Linked DNA regions of Homo sapiens: regions 1 and 3 are each reported to be linked to region 2. Evidence: microRNA targets listed by miRTarBase, many of them from high-throughput screens and not tested one by one. Region 2 holds a microRNA gene; each other region holds the end of a gene's coding sequence.

Region 1 (6,940 bases), not on the chromosome of region 2:
TGGTGCTGGGCACGGTGGCTCACACCTGTAATCCCCGCACCTTGGAAGGCTGAGGTGGGTGGATCGTTTGAGCCCAGGAATTCGAGACCAGCCTGGGCAACATGGTGAAACCCCATCTCTACCAAAAAAAAAAAAAAAAAAAAAAAAAAAAAAAAAAAAATTAGCTGAGCATGATGGTGCATACCTGTAGTCCCAGCTACTTGGGGGGCTGAGGAAGGAGGATCACTTGAGCCCAGGAGGTGGAGGTTGCAGTGAGCCGAGATAGTGCCATTGCACTCCAGCCTGGATGACAGAGTGAGACCCTGTCTCAAAATAAATGAATAAATAAATAATGGTGGACTGCGTATTTCCAAATTGCTAAAAGAGTAAATTTTAAATGTTCTCACCACACAAAATGATAAGTATTTAAGGTGATAGATGTTAATTATGTTGATTTAATCATTTCACTCGTGTGTGTGTGTGTATATGTATATATAGAGAGAAAATATTGCTTTGTACCTTATATAAAATTATAATTTGTCCATTTATAATATTTAATAATAAAAGTAAATTATTAGGGACGTACTTAGAGCTACAAAGATGCTGAATTGTTTATAATGGCAAAAATTCCCTGCATCTATTAAAACTTCATACTATCTGTTAAGATTTCATATTTATTATGTAGCTAAAGGGAAAAAAGTAGTTGCAAAACAGTATGATCTCATTTCTAGACTCATCAGCATTTGGCACAGTTGCGTCCTTCCTGAAACTTTCTTCAGTTGGACTCTCTTGGTTTTTCTCCCCTCTCATTGGACTCTGCTCCATCTCTTTACCTCCTTGGTCCCTGGTTGGAGGGCCCCAGTGATGAGCACTCAGCTTTGTGGATGTCTTCTTCTATAGCTACACTCCCTAGGCCTAAATGAGCTTCTGTCAGTCTTGTAGCTTGCACAGTCTACAACCAAAGATTCCTGGATTTCCATCTCCAGCCTGGACCTCTTTCCTAAATTCTCAATTTGGTTATCCAGCTGTTTACTCAACAAGTCCATCTACATGGCTGAGTATCTCAAAATTAACATGTCTAAGATATGATTCTTCTTTTACCCTCCAAGCCTGTCCTCCCAGTTACTCAGGTCAGAAGCCCTCAGCTGGGTGCAGTGGCTCACACCTGTAATCCCAGCACTTTGGGAGCCCGAGGCGGGCAGAATTACCTGAGGTTGGGAGTTGGAGACCACCCTGACCAACATGGAGAAACCCCATCTCTACTAATACAAAATTAGCTGGGTGTGGTGGCACATGCCTGTAATCCCAGCTAGTCAGGAATCTGAGGCAGAACCGCTTGAACCCAGAAGGCAGAGGTTGTGATGAGCCAAGATCGAACCATAGTACTCCAGCCTGGGCAACAAGAGTGAAACTGTCTCAAAAAAAAAAAAAAGCCCTGAAGTCGTACTTGACCTTGCTCTTTCTCCCATACCACACATCTAGCCTTCGGCACAACATACCTTCAGAACATATCCAGAATCCAGACACTTTTTTCTAACTCTTCCCTCTATCACCTGGTTCAGACCTCCTCCATCTCTGGCCTGCTTTACTGGAATAGCTTCCAACTCACCTTTCTGCTTCTGTCTATGCCCCATGGTCATCTGTTCTCAACACAGCAGCCAGAGTAAGTCTTAAAAATGTAAGCGCAATCATGTCACTGCTCTGCTCAGAATCCTCCAGTGGGTCCCCAGCTCAGACTAAACGCCAAAGTCCGCACAGTGGCCTACAAGCCTCTGTTCCCTCTCTGCCTTACTCATTGTTCCCCAGGCCTCCTGGTCTCCTTTGTTGTTCCCTCAAAGTTCTACCTGAGAACCTTTGTACTTTTGTTGTTCCCTCTGCCTGGAATGTTCTTCCCTATGGACATGATTCATTCTTTCACTCTTTTCAGGTCTCTGCTCAAATACCACATCCTCAGTGTGATCTTGTTCCTTGACTGCTCCAGGCATGCTCCTGCATCAGGATCTATCTGCCTGGAGCTCTTCCCCTAGGTATCCCTCACTGCTCAAACTTCCCCATTGAGAAGCCTCCCCGGACCCCCACTACCATTGTCCTCAGCACTCCCCGCCTCCCTCACTCTGCTTTTTCCCCACAGCATTTGCAACCATCTGCTCTGTATTCCCTCCCCTGTGCCTCTTACCCAGCAGATGTCAGCACATGTGGACGCCACACAGCAGGGACTCTGCTCTTTCGTTCAGTTCACTGACATATCCCCAGGACCTAAACAGTGCTTGACATATAGTAGATACCCAGTAAATATGTGGTGAGTGAAATAATTTTTCATAGAAAGTCTGGAAGGACATATACTAGTATTTTAAAATCCCCTCTGGGGTTATGAACATGGATGATGAATGTATTCTTTTTGCATAGCTGTATTTTATAATTTTCTTTATAATGATGTGTTTATGTCATGCCAATTGTATAAACATGATCTTATATATTTGTGATTTTTTTTCTCCCTCCCAGATAGGAGCATGCTGCTATGTGGAATGTTCAGCTTTAACCCAGAAGGGATTGAAGACTGTTTTTGATGAGGCTATCATAGCCATTTTAACTCCAAAGAAACACACTGTAAAAAAAAGAATAGGATCAAGATGTATAAACTGTTGTTTAATTACGTGAGAAACATCTTCAGTGGCCAAGGAAACTGTCCATTTCTCTCAGAAAGCAAATGAAATGCTACAGCTATACCCAGACCTTTTATAGGTAATGAAGCAGTTCAAAACTTGAAAGAAAACAAAACCTGTCCTCAGAATTCTATAAAGTGTATTAAGAATGTTCCTTAAAGGTTTAAGAAGCAGTAAGCAGCATCTGAAGCCACAATCTATTATAAATACTTTATTTCAACTAGAAGGTACAATCTCTCAGGGGTTTCATAGTTTAAAAAGCTACAATCACATCATGTTGTAACTACGTAAAAAACAGAGCTGTAAATGGAACTGCTTGGCTTTGACCATACACATTTCTGCCCAGCCCTTACAGAATCTGCACAAAGAAATATCTCCCTTTGCTCCAGTTAATTGTTCTTGTATGTAAGTTGCTTTCTATTCCAGTATATCCAGAGTGGTGAAATAACAAGGCCAGCCACGTAGCCAAAGGTCGCTCCAAGCGTACAGGAGATGGGCCATACCTGAGGAGAGAATGTATGAGATCAAAAAAGAACAAATGTTTTATTATTACTTGAGCACAAGTGTAACCTAAATATTTCTATATTAAAGCTTAATGTGCTTTCTTAAAGAATGCCAAAAGTGTAATAAGGTCATAACTGCATTTATCATGAACACTAAAAATGTACACATTTTAGTTAATGTGCATTAAACTGTAACAAGGCTTCTGGCAATTGTAGATTTAGTTTGACGCTCCCCAAAGTGCATGAGACACATGCTAAAATTACAAATTAAAATTTTGGGTCAGACTTTGCCATAATGATAGACTCAATTTAGCTCTCTGAACTAGTTGGTAATTTTTTTTTTTTAATTCCCACTTTGGCTGTGTACATCAAATGAAATGAGAAGTGTGTATGCTGACCAAACCACAAGAAACTTTCTTTAAGTTGTGTTAAAGAGGAAAGACCTAGAATCCAAGCGTGTTACATGAAAATTGTAACAGAGCAGCTGCTTCCACCTTTCAGATATAGATGTTGGAACCACAGCAGAAGTTATAGAGCGACAACTTATATACACACCTAGAATGTAAGTTAAACAAAATACCGGCTTCCAGAGACCCCTTTTCTCCAGCCATATTACATCAGGCTAGAAGTAATTAATGTTGATTTATTTCATCTACAAGCAGTTGGTCCCTAAGTGAAAGGCTCTGCTTGAAAAAAAAAAGAAAAAAAAGTTGGAGGAAAATTTTCATGTTCTTCTGTGAAGCTTATTTGGTACACTGGAGCCATTTCTAATCTTTCTCTGGGGGGAACAGGCCACAGAACTGTGTTAGAGGTGAACCATCTTAATTACTAGTTCTATTACCTAATTCAGCTTCCTTGTTTGGTCTGCTGTGGATCTGCCTTATTGCATATGCCATGCATCAGATAATGGATGCATCAGATAATGGTGTTAGACAAAGCTTCATTGTGAACAACCTAATGCATTTTAGAGAAACAATCTCATCACATTTTTTCTAGCCTTTCCTACATTTAAACTTGCTGTTGCCCAAATTATAATTTTTTAAATGTCTTTGGTGGGCTTCTGTTAATTCACATGACTTGAGCTTATAGCTATGTCTACTGCACAGATTGGGTAATGGAACACTAAACTTTTATACTTGAAAATGACAGCCTTAAATGCTCATATCAGTCACAAATCTAGGATGTACTGTCTTGTTGTATGTGAGCTTTGTAGAGATTTTTAAAAATATAAGCATCACCTTCCCATTGAAGAGTGGAGAGAGTCTACTGGATGACTGGCCAGGAACTTTCTCTCTGAATCGGACATTTGGATGTCTTCTTTCTTCCAAGAAATGGTGGTTCACATTAAAGTATCATGGCCTTATGTATGCTCAAATGGAATCTTATGTAACTTTCTTATTTAATTTTGGTCTGCTTATTTTTAGATAAAATTGAAAGGAATTGTATAAATCAATTAACATATTAGCTGAGTTGTCCAACACATGGTATAAACGAATTACAACAGTAAACTATTACACATTTCCAACTTGCCTTTGGGGATTTATGAGGATTTTTTTTGGTGGGGGGAGGGGGCTCCAATTCATATCTCTGAAACCCTTCACACTTGGTTTACTAATTCAAAGTTAGAAGTCTAGAATTTGCCCTGCCCTAACAGAAACAGATTAGGAATTTGTCTACACAAACTGGTGTCACCTGTTTCTTGACTGGGATTTGGTTTCCTCATTATAAATATGGGAGGTAGAACAGAGATCTCCAACGTCTCTCCCATTTATCACAGTAATTTTCTTATTCACAGTAATCATTGTTGGATGTTACCTTTTCAGCTTCACATTCTCAAGATGGTAAAAATCATGTATATAGATTATCAGAACTCTAAGCAAAGATGACTGTCACATCTGAAGCTGAGGTGCCTTAGGTACTCTACTGACCTTGATGGGTTTGGAGTTCCCCATTGCTTATCAAGAGCTTTTTAATTGCTTTGGTTCTTTAGTTTTTCTTTTTGCAAAAATCCTTCCTGTCACTTTAACTAAAAACCAAAGATTTGTTTTCTATTGATAAGCAGACTAGAGAAAAACTGCCTTATTTTCAGAAGCATGTCTTCATTCAAAGCTTAGGCTTCAATAGAAATTCAGACTAATCACTGAAATGACTATTTCAAACTAGTGAAATATCTGGGAAATAAACTGCTTCAAAAATATTTTACTGACATGAATTTTGCTAGTGAATACAAATACACTGCCTCAAATAAGGCCATGTATGAATGAACTTACAAGATATTTGAGTTAATCAGTGTTTGCATATAGAGAATTAGTTCTAAAGTTCTTAAAAATAAATTTAGGGGCTCCCTGAAATTTTATTTAATACTTTGCTAACTTACACTCTTGTTTTATCTCCACAGGTACATTTTAGGTTAGCTCATGGTGAATTCTATTTACAATAAGTGGAGCTTGGATTAATGGGTTTTGTTATGAATTATCTTAGTGACTTTAGACACTGTTTCCATTTGATTTTTAACTATTTAAAATACCAAATTAAATACCAGTTTGTTGGTTGTTACTTTTAAATGATTGTTACTTTAACAGTGTCCCTTCTTAACACATGGGGTTACAAATAAAATACTATGCATAGTTTACTATCTACGTAAAGCACTGAACTTTTTACCTTAGTAGTTTTTATTTATTACCCTATGTAAACATTTAGGATAATACTCTTTCCTCTATTTATGCTGAGAGTCTACTAATCATTGGCAAAGTATGAGTCCCTATACTCTGTTAAAAAAAGCTCACTGTTAAAGTATAGGGAGAATAGTAATCCCTCATGAATCCCAGCTAGATTCCAATTTGGGTTACTAAATTGTATTTTAATCATTTTGTAATTTCAGTATGGCTCTTTGTTCTCAAACACATACATACCACCACGCACATTCTTTTAAACAGCTGCCACACCTCACCTCCAACAGAATGCCAAAAATGAAATGTTAAAAAATTTTGTCTAATGAAGGGTTACGGCTTGGAACACTTGGTTATTCATGTTATGTAAATCAAGAAGTGCATGCCATCAGCAAATTAAAATGTGGACTGGCTTTGAAGACTGTTAATGATGGGTCAGGCTTTGTACTTACAAGAGTACCTCCTTGGCTTTCCTGAAATAAGCATTTCTTAATCGTAACCCTGTCATTTTTTTAAAAGAGAATTTCTTTAAGGGCCGTTTTCATGATTTTTGAAGATCAAAATAGATTATCAAAATAGGGAACAGCAAAAGGAGGGAGGCTGCCCACTAAGAACTATTCCTCAAGCAAGTTTCCTACTGATTTTCTTATAATTATTCTAAAAATTTTTAAACTACACTATGGCAACAGAATTCATTTGTAAATCCTAGCTTAATCAGGTATTTTCATAATTAGATCCTAAGGTTTTCCTTTAAAACTATTTCCTTATCTCACATACAGACATGTTTCTATTCAACGTTCTTCATGCCACAAATAGGATTTTTTAAAAAAGTGATATCTATTAAATACATAATTCAGCTGCACTGCTATAAAGATTTCTCCAAATTATGGTAATCTGAGATGGCTTTATATAATTATTTTGTTTAAAGAAAATAGGAAACTTAGAACAAAGACATTCATGTAAAGGAAGTCATTCACAAGTGTTTGCCACCAAAATGACAAGGGCCCAAGCACTGGAGGCCAGCCTGGGCAAGATAGTGAGAGTTTTTTATAAATTTACATTTTTTTAGCCAGTAAATAGAAGAAACAACCTATGGTGTATAATCAAATATATTACAACTCAAGTG
Region 2 (7,110 bases):
GCCGGGCCTGGTGGCAGGCGCCTGTAGTCCCAGCTACTCGGGAGGCTGAGGCAGGAGAATGGCGTGAACCCAGGAGGTGGAGCTTGCAGTGAGCCGAGATCACACCACTGCACTCCAGCCTGGGCAACAGAGCGAGACTCTGTCAGAGAAAAAAAAAAAAAAAACAGGTGATGCCTGTGCCACTGGACACACCTGCACACCATCCTCATGCTGATCACAAAAGAGGGTGAGGGGCCGGGCATGGTGGCTCATGCCTGGAATCCCAGCACTGGGGGAGGCCGAGGCGGGTGGATCACCTGAGGTCTGGAGTTCGAGACCAGCCTGACCAACATGGTGAAACCTCGTCTTTACTAAAAATACAAAAATTAGCTGGGCACGGTGGCGGGCGCCTGTAATCCGAGCTACTTGGGAGGCTGAGGCAGGAGAATAGCTTGAACCTGGGAGGCGGAGGCTGCAGTGAGCTGAGATTGCACCACTGCACCCCAGCCTGGGTGACAGAGCGAGGCTCTATCTCAAAAAATAAAATAAAAAATTTAAAACCAACAAAAAAGAGGGTGATGGCTGAGTGAGGAGTCCATGGTGGGCCCTACACAGGGCCCAGGAAGGACAGGGCGGGAAGCGTGAGCATCCTGCCCACCGCAGTGGGTCCGCCATGGAGAGCATGACCTTAGAGAAGCAAAGCCGCCTGGCTCGAAGCAGTGGCCGCCCTGCTGACAGCTGTAGTGGCCGGGTGGCACTCGGGCTGGGGTCCGGGGGAGTCTAGGTGGCCACCTGGCTGTGTGCCTGTGCCTGCCCAAGCTGGGCACCTTTCCCTGGCAGTGCCTGGGAAGCTCGGCCGCCCTCCCTGGCTGGTGCTGCTCTGCAGCCCCGCTCATGGACTCTTGCCCACGGCCTGCTCCTTGTAGCAGGGTCGGGCCGTGGGAGGTCCGGACAGGATCTTGAATGGCCCTGTCTGCGGTCCTGGCTGGCCGGAGGTTGACCGCACTGGACAGGTCAAGGGCCTTAAACCAGGGTAGTGAGGAGCCTGCTGAGCCCCTGCTGCTCCCCGGGCTGCCTTTGGCGCTCGGACAGACACCCAAGGACAGAAGCTCGGACAGCTTCTAAGGCGAAGGGTCTCCCGGGGCTGATTTCCCGGGACTCTGGCTCCTGCAGAGAGGGCTGGAGGCGGGGCTCTGTGTTCCAGGGTCAGAGTCCTCCTGGTGGAAGCTGAGGTGCCTGATTAAATGCCTCCCTTTCTAGGCAGCAGCCCAGACGCGGCACAGAGAGGGCCTGGGAGCTTGCTGCAGCTTCAGGTGAGTTTGTTCCCAAGCCCTGCGGCTCGTTTATGGGTTTGCTTGCGCTGCAGAACTGTTTGTGGAGCAGCAGGGTTGGAGTGCCCACGGCTGGGGGGCCTCTCGGAGCCCTTGATTCACAGAACCCCTGGAGGCCGGCAGCCCTGCCTGCCCTGAAGAGCCTCGTTCTCCCAGCCGTTTGGGCCGTGGTCCTGTCGTGGGAGGCGACGGTGAGGGCGGCCCGGGGTCCCGACAGGGGTGTTTGTCCCTTTGGGGACCTCCCCTGTGCTGTGGCCCCGGCCCCCAGATGGAGCTCCCCATCCCCACGGCAGCGCTGGGGCTGGGGCTGGTGAGGAGCCTGTGCACGGCCCCCACCGCTATCCTCAGCCAGGAGGGTGCCTGGTCCCTGGGGAGCGGCCTGCACCTGTTTCTGGAGAATGCTGTCCTGCCAGTTGTCATTTGGGGCGGGCGGTCGGAGTCCACGTCCTCCCCCAGGGCGGGGCCCTGGCCTTGTTTCTTGTAGGGACGATGGGAAGCCCTGTCCTCAGCCCTCCCACCCGACTCATGCAGGAGCTTCCTGTCCTTGGGGTCATCTCCTCCACAGGGGCCTTAGCGTCAGTGGGGACAAAGGCAGAGTTGCCTGTCTTCAGGTTGTGGGCACCGACTGAGCTTCGTCCCGGTAGTGGCTGGCTCTTGTTTCCTGCCTGGACCAGCAGCCTCTGGTCTGGTGGGTGCAGTTTTAGGGCGCAGTGGGGTTGCCGTGGGGCAAGGCCAGGCCACCAGCTGCCTGGACACAGGGGCCCCCGCTTTCCATCTGCTGCCCCCCACACCCCCAGCTCGGGCAGGGGTGACACCGGGGCATCCTTGTTGGGGTCGCTGTGGTTCCCATGGTGGCAAGATGGCTCTGTGAAAGATTGACGGAGATGTAGGGCCCAGGAGCAGGTGCTGTGTGAGTGGGACACGCCTGTGTCACCTGCGGGGCAGGGGAGGGCTCGGGGGTACAGCCGTGTACATGATTAGTTAGCGAGACAGTGAGGAGTGTATGCGGAGTGGACACAGCTGTGGGTGCCGCCCGCGCAAGGCTGGGGGTCGCTGTGCCAGCCCTGCTCCCATGTGGGCTCCCAGCTCCCCAGGTAGGGACGCTGACCCCGGGAGGTGCCTTTGCCTGCATCCACTGGAGCCTCAGGAGCATGCGTTCCGTCCCCACGGGTCACCCCCACTGAGCCCACCACCTACCGAGAGGCACCTCGAGACCCTGTCCTGCCACGGGTGGGCTGTCAAGGCCAGCACCAGAGACCCCCAGCAGACCTCAGTGGCCGCAGATGGAGCGGGGCGGCAATGGTCACCTCCGGGACTCAGCCCTGTGCTGAGCCCCGGGCAGTGTGATCATCCTGGCCCTTCTCGTGCACGTCCCCTGGCTGGATGCTCCTTGCTGCCCTCACGGGGTGTGTGTGTGGCATACAGGACAGGGACCGGCCAGTTGGCCCTGCTCATTAACCACTTGTCCCCACAGGGCAGTGGCGGCCTCACCTCTGCAATTCTCTGAGGCTGGATCTAGGCCACCGCCCCGTTTAAAACTAGGGCATCGGCTCCCAGGGAGGGCGGGGAGCTGCACAGTTGGACTTGTGGGGGTCAGGCATGGATCCACACAGCCCGGGGCCCTCCGCACCCTGCCCCTCCAGGGAGCCCAGAGGCGGGCGTGGCTGCAGCCTGGCTCTGTGGCAGTCATGAGTCACGGCCACTCTTGAGGCGCCGCCCTGAGAGTCAGCCCTGTGGTCACGGCTCCTGCTGGTTCCCATTCGCGAGCACCTGAAACAGCCTGGCCCACAGCAGAGGCCCGGGGGGCACATGCAGCTCACGGGAGCAGCACAGATGCTTGGCCGGCGGCAGGCCCTACAGGAGCAGCAGCGGCCCAGGGCATGTCCCTGGGGTCAGGGGTCAGAGTTCGGCATGCTCTGCGGGGGCCTCACCCTGCTGTCCCTCGGCCTGGCCTGGGCACACTCCTTGGTGACAGTGCCCCTGCACGCCCCCCCCCCCCCCCGGTTATTCAGACAGGGAGCCAGGATGGGAACCACGGACTGACCTGACCTGCGTCCTCGGGGCCACTGCACTGGGTGATTCACGTGTGCCCAGGCCCTGAGGTGGGCCGGACCTGGGAGTGGCAGGTGAGCGTTCCTCCCAAGAGCCTCTGGCTGGCCGCAGCAGGCCCTGTCCCTGCTGTCCTCAGTGGCCCTGGACATGATAACCCCCCTGCCGAGGTCTGGCCGGAGCCAGCACCCACGGCCGAGATGCAGTCAGCCCTGGCTGGGCGCTGTCCCTGGGGGTGGCTGCTGGTGCTGCCCTCCCTCCTTCCCACCACTTCTTGCTCCTCTTTCCTGGGGCCCTCCCATCGGAGTCTTCCTCCTAAATGCAGTTCCCTCCCTCTAGGGGAACGCGGGCTGGGAGCCTATTTTTTTTTTTTTTGAGACGGAGTCTCGCTCTGTCGCCCCGGCTGGAGTGCAGTGGCGCGGTCTCGGCTCACTGCAACCTCCGCCTCCCGGATTCAGGCCATTCTCCTGCCTCAGCCTCCCAAGTAGCTGGGATTACAGGCGCCCGCCACCACGCCCAGCTAATTTTTTGTGTGTTTTTAGTAGAAACAGGGTTTCTCCATCTTGCGCAGGCTAGTCTTGAACTCCTGACCTCGTGATCCACCCACCTCGGCCTCCCACAGTGCTGGGATTACAGGCGTGAGCCACTGCACCTGGCCTGGGAGCCTTTTCCGTAGCTGCTCATCCTGTACTAGCATCTGTCCATCATGAGTGGACGGAACACAGGGGGACCCAGGACCCACAGCTGCACTCGGGAAGGCCAGCAGGGTGGATTTCGGGAAGAGCATCGGTGCCAGTTTCCCACAGTCACCCTTGCGATGGGACCCTCAGGTTGGCACGTGGCTGGCAGCTGTGTCCCGGGAGCTCTTGCTCCTTAGTGGGCCTCGCCAGCCAGGGCAGGGCCCCCGGCACCCCTCACGGGGCTCTTGACTCCTCTGGCAGCGGATCGGGGCGGTTCAGCGATACCATCTCTGGAGATCCCCTGGCGTGTGCTGGAAAAACCCCGGAGAGGGCTTAACAGAGCCAGCTGTCCAGCCTCTGTGACAGGGACGTTTGCTTTTCTCTGCAGGGTCCTCTCTTCTCTTCCGAGCACCCACGGGAGGGGACTGTGCTGTCCCTGCTCTCCTAGGACAGGCCTCCCTCCTGTCCAGATGGGGCCCACAGGGTCAGTTGCCTGAGACTGGCTCCAGCTCAAGAAAGGTTTTCTGAGTGAGCGCAGGGGAGCAGGAGGCTGGTGAGCAGCTCGCTTCCTGCCCTGGGTGCAGCTGGGCACCACTTCTGCCTTGGGCCTAAAGGCATCAGTGAGGAGCAGGCGGGGCCTGGTAGGAGCCTGTGTTTCTAGCGGCACGCGTGACCCCAGGTGCCACGTGGGTGAGTGCGTGGGTGGGTGAGTGGCGAAGGAGCTGAGGTTGGCCCTGGCAGGTGTGCAGTCCTCACACAGAACGGGCAGGGCTCCTGTCAGAGCCAAACCAGCTCAGGGCCCAGTGCAAGCAGCTTCTGTCCCGTGGCACCTCCGCTAGTCGCCGCTCCCACCCAAGCCCTGCCCCGCCCTGACCCGCTCAGGGTTTGGCTACAGAAGGGGAGTGTCGGAAATGCCCAACCCGTCTCCCGTGAGGGACTCCTGCGTGGCCTGGGCTGGGGAACGCAGGGGCCGTTTGGGTGGTTCCGGCGTCTGGCGTAGCCACGCGAGAGGCCCTGGGTTGATGCGTGGGCTCCCTGCTAGCGAGCCTGCTCCGTGCGTGCTGGGCTCCCGGCCTTGCTTCCGTGTGGCATTCGAGACCCCGTGGACCTCGCCTGCGTCCTGCATGTTTGAGCGCTGCCCCTTGTGGAGGCCGCCAGCACTGGTGGCTGCAGGGCCTGTAGTGTGGCACGTCCAGAGACCCGGCCTGGAGAACGGGTCCTGGATGTCTCCGTCATGTTTTACGTTCGCTTCACACGGACGCAGCGATGTCTCAGATACCTCGGATCACACAGAGCACGTCGCCAAGGCTTGTTTTGTCTGTTCCTTTCCACCTGTCTTACGTGGATACCAGGAGATCCGCCACGACTCCCGTGGCCCCGTCCACACTGCGCGGCGCTCTCCGGCGTGGCCGCCAGGTGCCCCTTCGAGGGCAGGTGTGAGTACAGGGTGGTCCCTGTGGAGAAGCGCCTGCAGGCGAGTGAGCCAGGCTGTGCCCTGCTGACCCCGAGGCCTGAATTTCATGGAACTCCCACCTCTCACAGAGTATTGTTTTTTTTTTTGATTTTTTTCCAACCATTTAAAAATGTAAAAGCCATTGTTGACTTGCGGGCTGGACCAGGCTTAGGGCTGGGCTCTGGTCCGCACCCCACACTGGCCCCGTGTGTCCTGTGACCGTTCTGCCTACGGGGCAGGCCTGAGCCACCACAGGATGGCAGGGTCTCCAGGGTGCAGGGCCCGCAATGCTTCAACCCTCCCACGACCCCAGCACCTTCAGAGAAAACGGACCCTCGTGCCGAGTGAAGTGGTTCAGGCGAACGTTATCACCACACGGGGGACTCGGCGGCTTCTGCCCCAGGCCTCAAAGGAGAGGGGATCCAGAATTCTCTGTCTCACCCCCTCAGCCCCTGCCCTTGAAGCTTCTGTCCCCAAGGCTGTGGGGAGGAACCAGGGAAGGGCTGGCGCGTCTGCTGTGCGATCCCAGGTGCTCGTGCCTCGCTGAGCTCAGCCCCTGTGGCCTCAGAGCTGCAGGCCCCTCCCGGGTGTCAGAGCACTGACTGGAAAGGCCCCCCACATCCCTGCCCTCTGCTGCTCCCCATCGTCGCGGGGGAGAAGCTGGAACTGCACCCCCACCCCCCCCAGCCCGCTCACCTAGGGCTGCCCCCAGGCCTCCCTGAGCTCCAAAGGATATGTTCTTTGGTGCTTTTTTTTTTTTTGGCTCTGTCTCCCAGGCTGGAATGCAGCTGTGGTGCTCACGCCATCCTCCCACGTCAGCCTCCTGAGTAGCTAGGTCTACAGGTGCACACCACCACACCCGGATAGTGTTTAGTTTTCTATAAAGACAGGGTCTCACTGTGTTGCCCAGGCTGGTCTCAAACTCTTGGGCTCAGGTGATCCCCCACGCACGGCAGCTTTGACACTTACTTGACCCTTTCCTCCTAAGCTCTACCCTGACGCTGGCTGTGTGTCCCAGAGACTTAATCAGAAGCTGGAAGAAGGGCTGTGACGTGTGTGACAGCAGGAACTGCTGGTCAACCCACAGCCGGCCAGCCTGCCGGGACGCCATCTTGGCCCCAATCTTGGCAGGGAGAGGGGAGTGTATCGGACTCTGGGGAGAGCAGCTGCCTGCACGGGCAGGGTCCTCCCGTCTCAGGATTAACGTTCTCAACTGTATTTGATTTCTCCTCAGCCAGAGGGGGTAAGGTGGCCTTCCCAGAAGCACAGGTGGGCCGCGTGTCAGAGGCCCTGGACAGCCTGTGCCTCTCCCAGGCCTCCCAGCAGGGGTGGCTCTCGCCCCTCTGGAGGGGAGACCCCAGGAACCGGCCCCCGCCCTCAGCCATAGCCTCACAGGGTCCTTGTTTCTCGGGGCCTGGCTCTGTGGGTGCACAAGGCATGGTCGGGCTCCCGTCCTTCTGGAAGTCTCCAGAGTGGCATGTGGGCAGCTGTGTGAAGCGGCCCCCCAGATCTTCATCCAGCCTGGCCTGCAGCAGCTCCCTACGCCCTCTGCTACCTCCCCTGCCTACCTTTGGGTAGACGTTCTCTTGACCCTTCCTTCTGTGATAAAGCAAAAGCG
Region 3 (7,110 bases), not on the chromosome of region 2:
AACAAACCTGCACATGTGCGCCTGAACTTAAAAGCTAAAAAAGAATCAGCAGCTCTGCAAGGGCAGGTTTTTTCCTTTCTCCTCTACAGCTTCAATGTGCTGGCTTTGCCCTCAGGTTAGCTCCCTTCTGGGTCCAAATGTGGCTATAGCAGTTTCAGTCATCAAGTTCAGGCAAAATAATGTAAACAGGCAAAAAGAGTCTCTTGCAAGGTCTCCTTGGGAGTGAAGGAACTTTCCCCAGAAACACCCTCAGCAGAGTTTCCTCATGTCTCCTTTGCCAGGATGGAGTCCCATGGCCACTTCTAAAGCAATTACACCAAAGGTGACAGAGCTGGGATAACGTCCTACTTCCCTAAGCCACAAGGTGGGGGAAAGCAGTTACTCCTCAATATCCTGGCAAGGAAGCAGCAGCGATGCTGGAGAAGCAACCACCAGTGTCTGCCTTAGTCTCATCATTACTAACATTTGAGTGCACACCTATGTTCGCTGCAGGCTCCTAACATTTCCTCTAGAATCATTCTTTCCCACGGGGCCAAAATGAATCCCAGAGCAGCAGTTTTGTTACTTCTGGTAACCTAATGGGATGGCATTATCAGCAAGTCAAGAGTTAATCGGACTCTTAGCAAACAAGACACCCAGCAAGGTCTTTTATAGCCCAACTACTGCATCACTACCATGTCTTGTCTCTGTGTTTTCCTGTTGCAGATTCAGAACAGAAATCCATAGCCTTAATCTGATGAAGAAAAAGTACAATATAACCTGACAATCATATTTTTGTCTTTTTTCATTATTCACATACTCCTCATTTACTTTCCCTCTCAGGTCTAAGTTCCCTTTGTGTATTCTTGATATAGTTTCCCACCTTTATTAGACCCATTTCTTTTGAACAGTGTATTTTTGTACCCTAGTAACAAATAGCATCTCAGATTTTGACAGTTATGTTTATGTCCTTATGTTAACATGTCTAAGCTCTATGTATGACCTGGTACCTCGCATATACACATCTGAAGCTGTGTCATTACTGGGTCCCCTATTTTCCTTCTATTCCAGAGCTTATTTTTGAGATGTCCCCACTCATCTTCCTTTTAAATGAACACAGCATCATCCACATTTTCTCTGGCCTTTTCATAAGCTACTTCCATAAAGTTTAGAGTATACGTTGATGCCCAGCACTTTATTTCCAACATAAGGCCTTCTGACAGGTTTGCTAGCTTGCATGAGTTCTCAGACAAATCAGTGCTCTAAATATTTATTTTAAAATAAACCTTACAACCCTCTAAACTATGTGTTAATTTTTATAAATGAAAAAACTGAAGCTCAGATATTAAGTAACTTCTTCAAAATCACCCAGAACAAAGTCAGGCTTGACTCCAAAGCCCAGCTATTCTTGTGGTTTTCTGAACTCTGAGGACTGACGAACAGCATCAGTCAAAATGTAGATGTGTTAAAATTATCAGACTTAAAAAAAAATGCTCCTGAGAAACACTGGGGGAGTGGCACCCTAATGGAACCCAGGTGAGTGATGCCCACGGAAAACCATGTGGTAAGGAAGGACATAAGGGGAAACAGGTTCCAGCATGCAGGGAAGAAGAAAAACTATCTCGTCTGGCAGACAACTGAGAACTGGCCAACTCCCAGATGTCTTCCTGTATGTTCCTACAAGAATTCTGAGGGTCCCACTCTGCTGCGGCTTGTCCCGGTTCCCCTCCAGGTTCTGCTGCCTCCTTGTATTATTTAACTATAGCAAAGTTTCTCCCACTTCATTGTAAGACTTCCCTTACATCAAATAAGCTTCAAGAACATGTGTAGAAAATAAAAGATACCAAATAATGTTTGAATGTGTAATTACTACATTCTAAAACCAGCCAGACTCTTCTAAGACTTCTAACAACAAACCACTTCCAGAGCCATTTTAGAAAATGTGTTTACCCAACTCCTTTTTTATTGGTTGACTCACGTGGAAGAGATGGGCATTTCCTTTCCCCAAATGGGAATTTACTATGCCTACTCCATATTTCTTGAAAGCTGTCATTTTGAAAAAGAGGAATATGAAAAATATTAAAAGACAAACATCTGACATCACTGTCGAAGACTATAAAATAATGTAGTAAGTGAAATTGGTTTTCACATTTCAGTACTGCTTTAAACTCTGATATTTAAGAACTAAGTGTTTCTCATTTAGTTCTATCCATGATCTCTTTCAGAAGTCAACCACCTCCTGTGTAAAAGCCTCATAGAAGCCACTGCCTTCTGAAGGAAACACACCAACTGGCAGGGGGTCAGGGTAAGCCAGGAGTCACACCCAACTACCACTGCTCACACCCAAGAACCCCACCCTACCCTGGCCACAAAAACTGTGCCTAGACTCCAGCACAGCCTGCAGCTGTGTTTCAATTATAGCTGTGTTTGTAATTATAGGTCATGTGCCTTCTCCCCCACCCCAATCACTCCACCCCAATCACTCCATTTGGCTAACAAGTGACCATATTATAACACAAAAATGGAAAACAAACTGGAATGCTCGAAAAAGTTACAAATAAAAACGGTATGAAGGCATATTAAATTTTGGCTGATACTTCCCTTTGATTTTGCTAAACTATAGCAAAGGCTGGCTCAATGTTGATTTTTACTGAAGAGTATCATTAACTGAAGAAAGAAAAAAAGACATAAACAGTAGTGAAATAAAGAATAGGCAAATACACCAGAATTATGAATAGAAGCCATTTTAAAGAAGAGAAATATTCTACAACAGATGAAGAAAGTTTTAATTTCTTTTCACATTAAACATTGTTTACCACAATCAGCTAACAGAAATTACTGTAACATTGGTCACGATGACTTCATAAAACTAAAGATAAATGTTATGAGGAAACTTCATTTAACGTGAATGGTAATGTTAGATACTGTATTTTTCCATGGTAAAATACAACTTATCTTGAAGAGAAAGCAAATAGTTCAGATCAGGGAGACATGCTGAGGTTTTAATAAAGAAAAGCTTGGCCTTGTCCAGAACACTTAACAAAGTTCAGGACAATTTAGGTAAAAGAGATGAGTGAGACACCAGCGTTAGGCAGGGACATAGGCTCATCATTCAGGCTTTATGTACATTACTGGATCTATGCAGCTCTCACCTTTAGATAAGTGAGCTATATTTTTGGCAGAGGGATCTTCAAAAGTAGCCTTGGATATGAGGAATCGTATTTTAACCACCAGGCAGTCCAAGGAATTATTTTTAAAGGGACAGCTGAGTATTTCACGTATATACTATTAAGGCATCTAAATTTTTGGTGTTTTCAGTATATAATTTTACTGCTACTTTTTATTCTTTTTTTTCATATTGTACAACTATGATATTAGGTATTAAGCGACGTAATTCTTTCTCTACTAGTGAACCAGTTTATTTCACTTAGCAAACTCTAAATTGAGGGAAATATATAATCTGAGAACACACAGAAAAATATATTGAAAAACCAATAGAGAATTATTTTTAACCATCATAAAAACTCAATCTTAATTAACTGATAGTCTTTAACTTAAAAAAAGAGTAATCAGAATGAAAATAGGTATTAAAAATAATTACCAGTAGTTTGTTTTACAAAATAGAGCCATAAATTGTTTAATTGCCCAATTAAGCAACTACCAGATTCTTTAGTCAACACTAACAGAATTCACATTTCAGCTAGTCAACAAAGCATATAAATATTTAACATCTCTTGAAGATAACATTTTAGTGATAACGGAGACTACATAATTCTATCCATTGTTGTGACTGTCCACAAATTAACCAGGTTAAATATCAAAGATACATTGGGAATACTCCCCAAAACAACAACAGAATATTAATTAAATGAATTTTAAAAGCTTAAGAAATGAAAGTAGAAAACATGAATGAGACGGTGCTTAAACAATTATTGACCTAATCAAGACCTTTAAAATTACCACCAAAATGCACTATCATTTTTTTTTTATTTAGTTTACAGGAAGAATCTGTAAGTACAGGTTGCAGAAAGAAAACGTTTAGTGCTATTTACATTCATTTTAAAACTCTGCTCTATACAAATTTAATTCTGATCAGTATGAACAATATTTTCGTAGATCTACTGCATATAAAGCCTTTTCATCAAAGCATTAACAATGAATAAAATAACATGATTACATTTAAACAACGCTGACCATTTGAAACCATTTACATTTAATGTTTGTAAGGGCTGTTGACACTTAGTACAGAATGTAATGTCAGCCTGCAACTTCATTTTTATAAAGGCTAAACTTATTTATATGGAATATTGTTCTGTATACTACGCGCCAATCTATATTTTAAGTCCTGTAGTTAGGTATTTTATAAGTCTTTTATTAAATATATTCTACACATATTTGTAATTTCATCCAGGAAGAATTTCTTCCCAGTGAAAAAATATAAAAATCTTTCATATTTTTACAGGTTTAGATGAAAGTAGCTCATGCTTTAGTGCTGTGCAAATTGTTTTTAGCATATCAATCTTTAAATTATTGGTATGAAATAAAAGAAAAAGTGGCATTCTTGTGTATGCCATAAAAATCAGCTTTTGACTTTAATACAATTGCAAGCACTAATATCAAACGCAAACTATATAAAGAAACAAAATTAGTACTATGGAGTTTTTTTTTAATTTTAAGAATTCATCTGAACTCTAAGGAGTAAGCATGACACTGGATGTGGTTACAAATTAATGATAATTATGGAAAATTTCAATTTGCTGATATTCAAATACATAAAATTGATCAATGAGGTTTTCTAATATTTCTGCACAATAATGAAAGCCGATGAGTGACTGAAACTACCCTCCCACATTAAGGCTAGGAGACGCACTCTCACCCCTTCTTGTGCTGTCTAAACAAACACTCAGTTACTGTAGGACTCAAGAGTGCATGTCTTAAAGGAAAAAAAATTAGTTTCATCAGCCCTCTACTGAGTGCTTTAAACAGGCACATTTTGTTTTTTCATTTGTTGCAGTGAAAATAGTCACACTCAGTTTAGTATTCTGTGCCAGTGCAGCCACCACGGCTGACTTTGGTAGAATTCACCCAACATTTTAGTTTCTTTTCCATTTTTTCCTCTCAAGTTGGCCCAGTAATTAACTTCATTAATTGCTGAGTGTCTTCCAGTGTGGAATTGTATATATAAGTATTTCTAGATACCACACACTGTTATAAATTCTGCTGATGAGGAAAATAATGCCAATCTTTTTAATGCAAATTGTATTTGGAACACTTGATTTATTAGTTCTGATGATGAAAATTTTGTGGCAGCAAAATGGTTTCTGCTACGAAAGATAACTTGTTAACTTTTCCCCTGGAGATTGACTGCATTCAAAAACCAATATGTGTTAAAACAGCTCAACAAAAAATACAAGAAATAAAAAATCAGAGTGAAAAATGTTCTTGGTTCTTTTTACTTTCATGAGAAAAGATGACAGTGTTCATGTGGTAATTCAGTTCCATGTGTTTACAGGCAGACTGTTCTGAACGGTTTCTGAAGCAATGTCGGGTCTTTTCTGTCCCAGCAGCATGAAAGACAAAGACTATATCACATCACACTAGGCAGACAGTGTTTACAGGATTACACAACAATTACTCTCTCCAGTCTTCTCACGATTCCTCTGACCTAGGGAAAACGAAGAAGAGCCTCGTTTATAAAAATTCTAGAACTGGAGGGGAAAATGGGCTAGGCAATCAAGTGTAGGAAGTAGTAGTTTTGAGTTTTTAAAAATGTTTGCATTTTTCAAAATTAAGAAGCTGTAATAAATGTTCTTTTAATTTTAGCATGTTTCAAAAATGTCTGGTTATTTGCTTGACAATCTCTATTCATAAACTATGCAAACTTCCCTTCCCTCAGCATATCCAAGAAAAACCTAGCATTTTTGAATGCCTGTCTTTGTGCCTCAACTGAGATACTTTTCCAGTGCATGGCTTACCTTGAGAGTTTGGCTCTGGTAATGTCTCTCTGGCCACCAAATGCATCACTGTTGTTTTGCCAAAAGGAAGTTTTAATGCTATGTGAAAAGCAAAAGATGATTAGTTACACATATATCGACCTATTAAAATCACTATCCAGATTTAAAACCATTTTAAAAATTGATTGCTTTTTTATGACTTCTTTAACAGATTCAACTTAACTCAGAGTACCTTCACAAAATTAGGTTAATATTATCAGAAATAACATTTAAAATTTAGAAATTATTTTTTGCAGTTATATAGCCATTTGCTTGACACATTTATCCATATTAAGAGATGATATAAGAAAAAATATGTAATTGGCTAATATCAGAGGCCACCTTTAGAGGAGAAAGGATTAAATTTTTTTTAAAAGAATACTCTTTTCTATATTAGGTAAAAGTTTAGATTAAGAGATATTCATTTCTAAATCTAATTACTTGTCTATTGCCTAATAAAATTACTGCACTGAACAGGCTACTATGATGTAGAAATGCAAGAAATAAACTTGATTTTAAACATTTATTCTCACCCTGTATTCGTCCATTAGAAAAGAACTTTCTTAAAAAGATTAGGTTAAAATAATCACTTTCTTGGCATTATCAATAATCACTGTTTCCTAATCAAGTCTTTATAACATTTTTTCACTCATAAATTTAATAAATTTTATCATGAAATATTTCAGACATAGAACACACACCCATGTCCACTAAGGCAAATACAAATACTGAGTTTCATGGTAAATCCCTTTGTTACTCTGTGTATAAAATTAGAAGCAGCTGGTATATTTAGCTTCTAGAACTGTTTCTATAGTTGTTATGTTTTAGTTCTGACACCTCAAACTACCCTCTCTTCAAAAACTACAAACTGAAGTAAGGCCTAAGATCATCACTTAGCAATAATGATCCTCCACTCCAGCTACCTGCTTTTTAAAACCTGCTCTATAGGATGATGGTTAACATGCAGATTTTAAAAAGAATCCTAATTATCTTCAACACTAGTACTATTTCATATATTCAAGGTGAGTTCCAATCTCATTTAAAGTTGGCCAGCCATTATTTGGTCTACACTTTTAACCTCTGATGTTCAAATGAAGCACGATGGCCCATAAATACATAATGAAAAAAGGGAGGCTTT

What was found. Region 2 holds the annotated microRNA hsa-miR-5587-5p (AUGGUCACCUCCGGGACU, at 2,610-2,627, shown strand). A microRNA usually pairs through its seed, bases 2 to 8, with sites in the 3' UTR of a target mRNA and lowers its output. Matches are read on the target gene's strand: a 7mer-m8 pairs with bases 2 to 8, a 7mer-A1 pairs with bases 2 to 7 and ends in A, and an 8mer does both.
Region 1: the mRNA of RHOQ is a reported target of hsa-miR-5587-5p. Seed matches in the 3' UTR shown: 7mer-A1 at 3,540-3,546.
Region 3: the mRNA of UBL3 is a reported target of hsa-miR-5587-5p. Seed matches in the 3' UTR shown: 8mer at 2,826-2,833.

Annotation. Positions count from the first base shown.
Region 1 is chr2:46,578,447-46,585,386 of GRCh38, forward strand. It overlaps RHOQ (ras homolog family member Q), which reads left to right. Exons shown (of 5, transcript NM_012249.4): 5 at 2,482-6,242. The coding sequence ends at 2,637. PIGF (phosphatidylinositol glycan anchor biosynthesis class F) reads right to left here. Exons shown (of 6, transcript NM_002643.4): 6 at 2,491-3,145. The coding sequence ends at 3,032. It overlaps RHOQ-AS1 (RHOQ antisense RNA 1), which reads right to left and starts at 1,792. Exons shown (of 2, transcript NR_104182.1): 1 at 1,589-1,792.
Region 2 is chr16:532,707-539,816 of GRCh38, forward strand. MIR5587 (microRNA 5587) reads left to right here and starts at 2,610; the gene lies at 2,610-2,662. CAPN15 (calpain 15) reads left to right here. Exons shown (of 14, transcript NM_005632.3): 2 at 1,240-1,292; 3 at 3,323-3,436.
Region 3 is chr13:29,761,664-29,768,773 of GRCh38, forward strand. UBL3 (ubiquitin like 3) reads right to left here. Exons shown (of 5, transcript NM_007106.4): 4 at 5,955-6,032; 5 at 2,708-5,644. The coding sequence ends at 5,592. Among named protein-coding and RNA genes, the nearest start is that of UBL3, 85 kb to the right of the region's middle.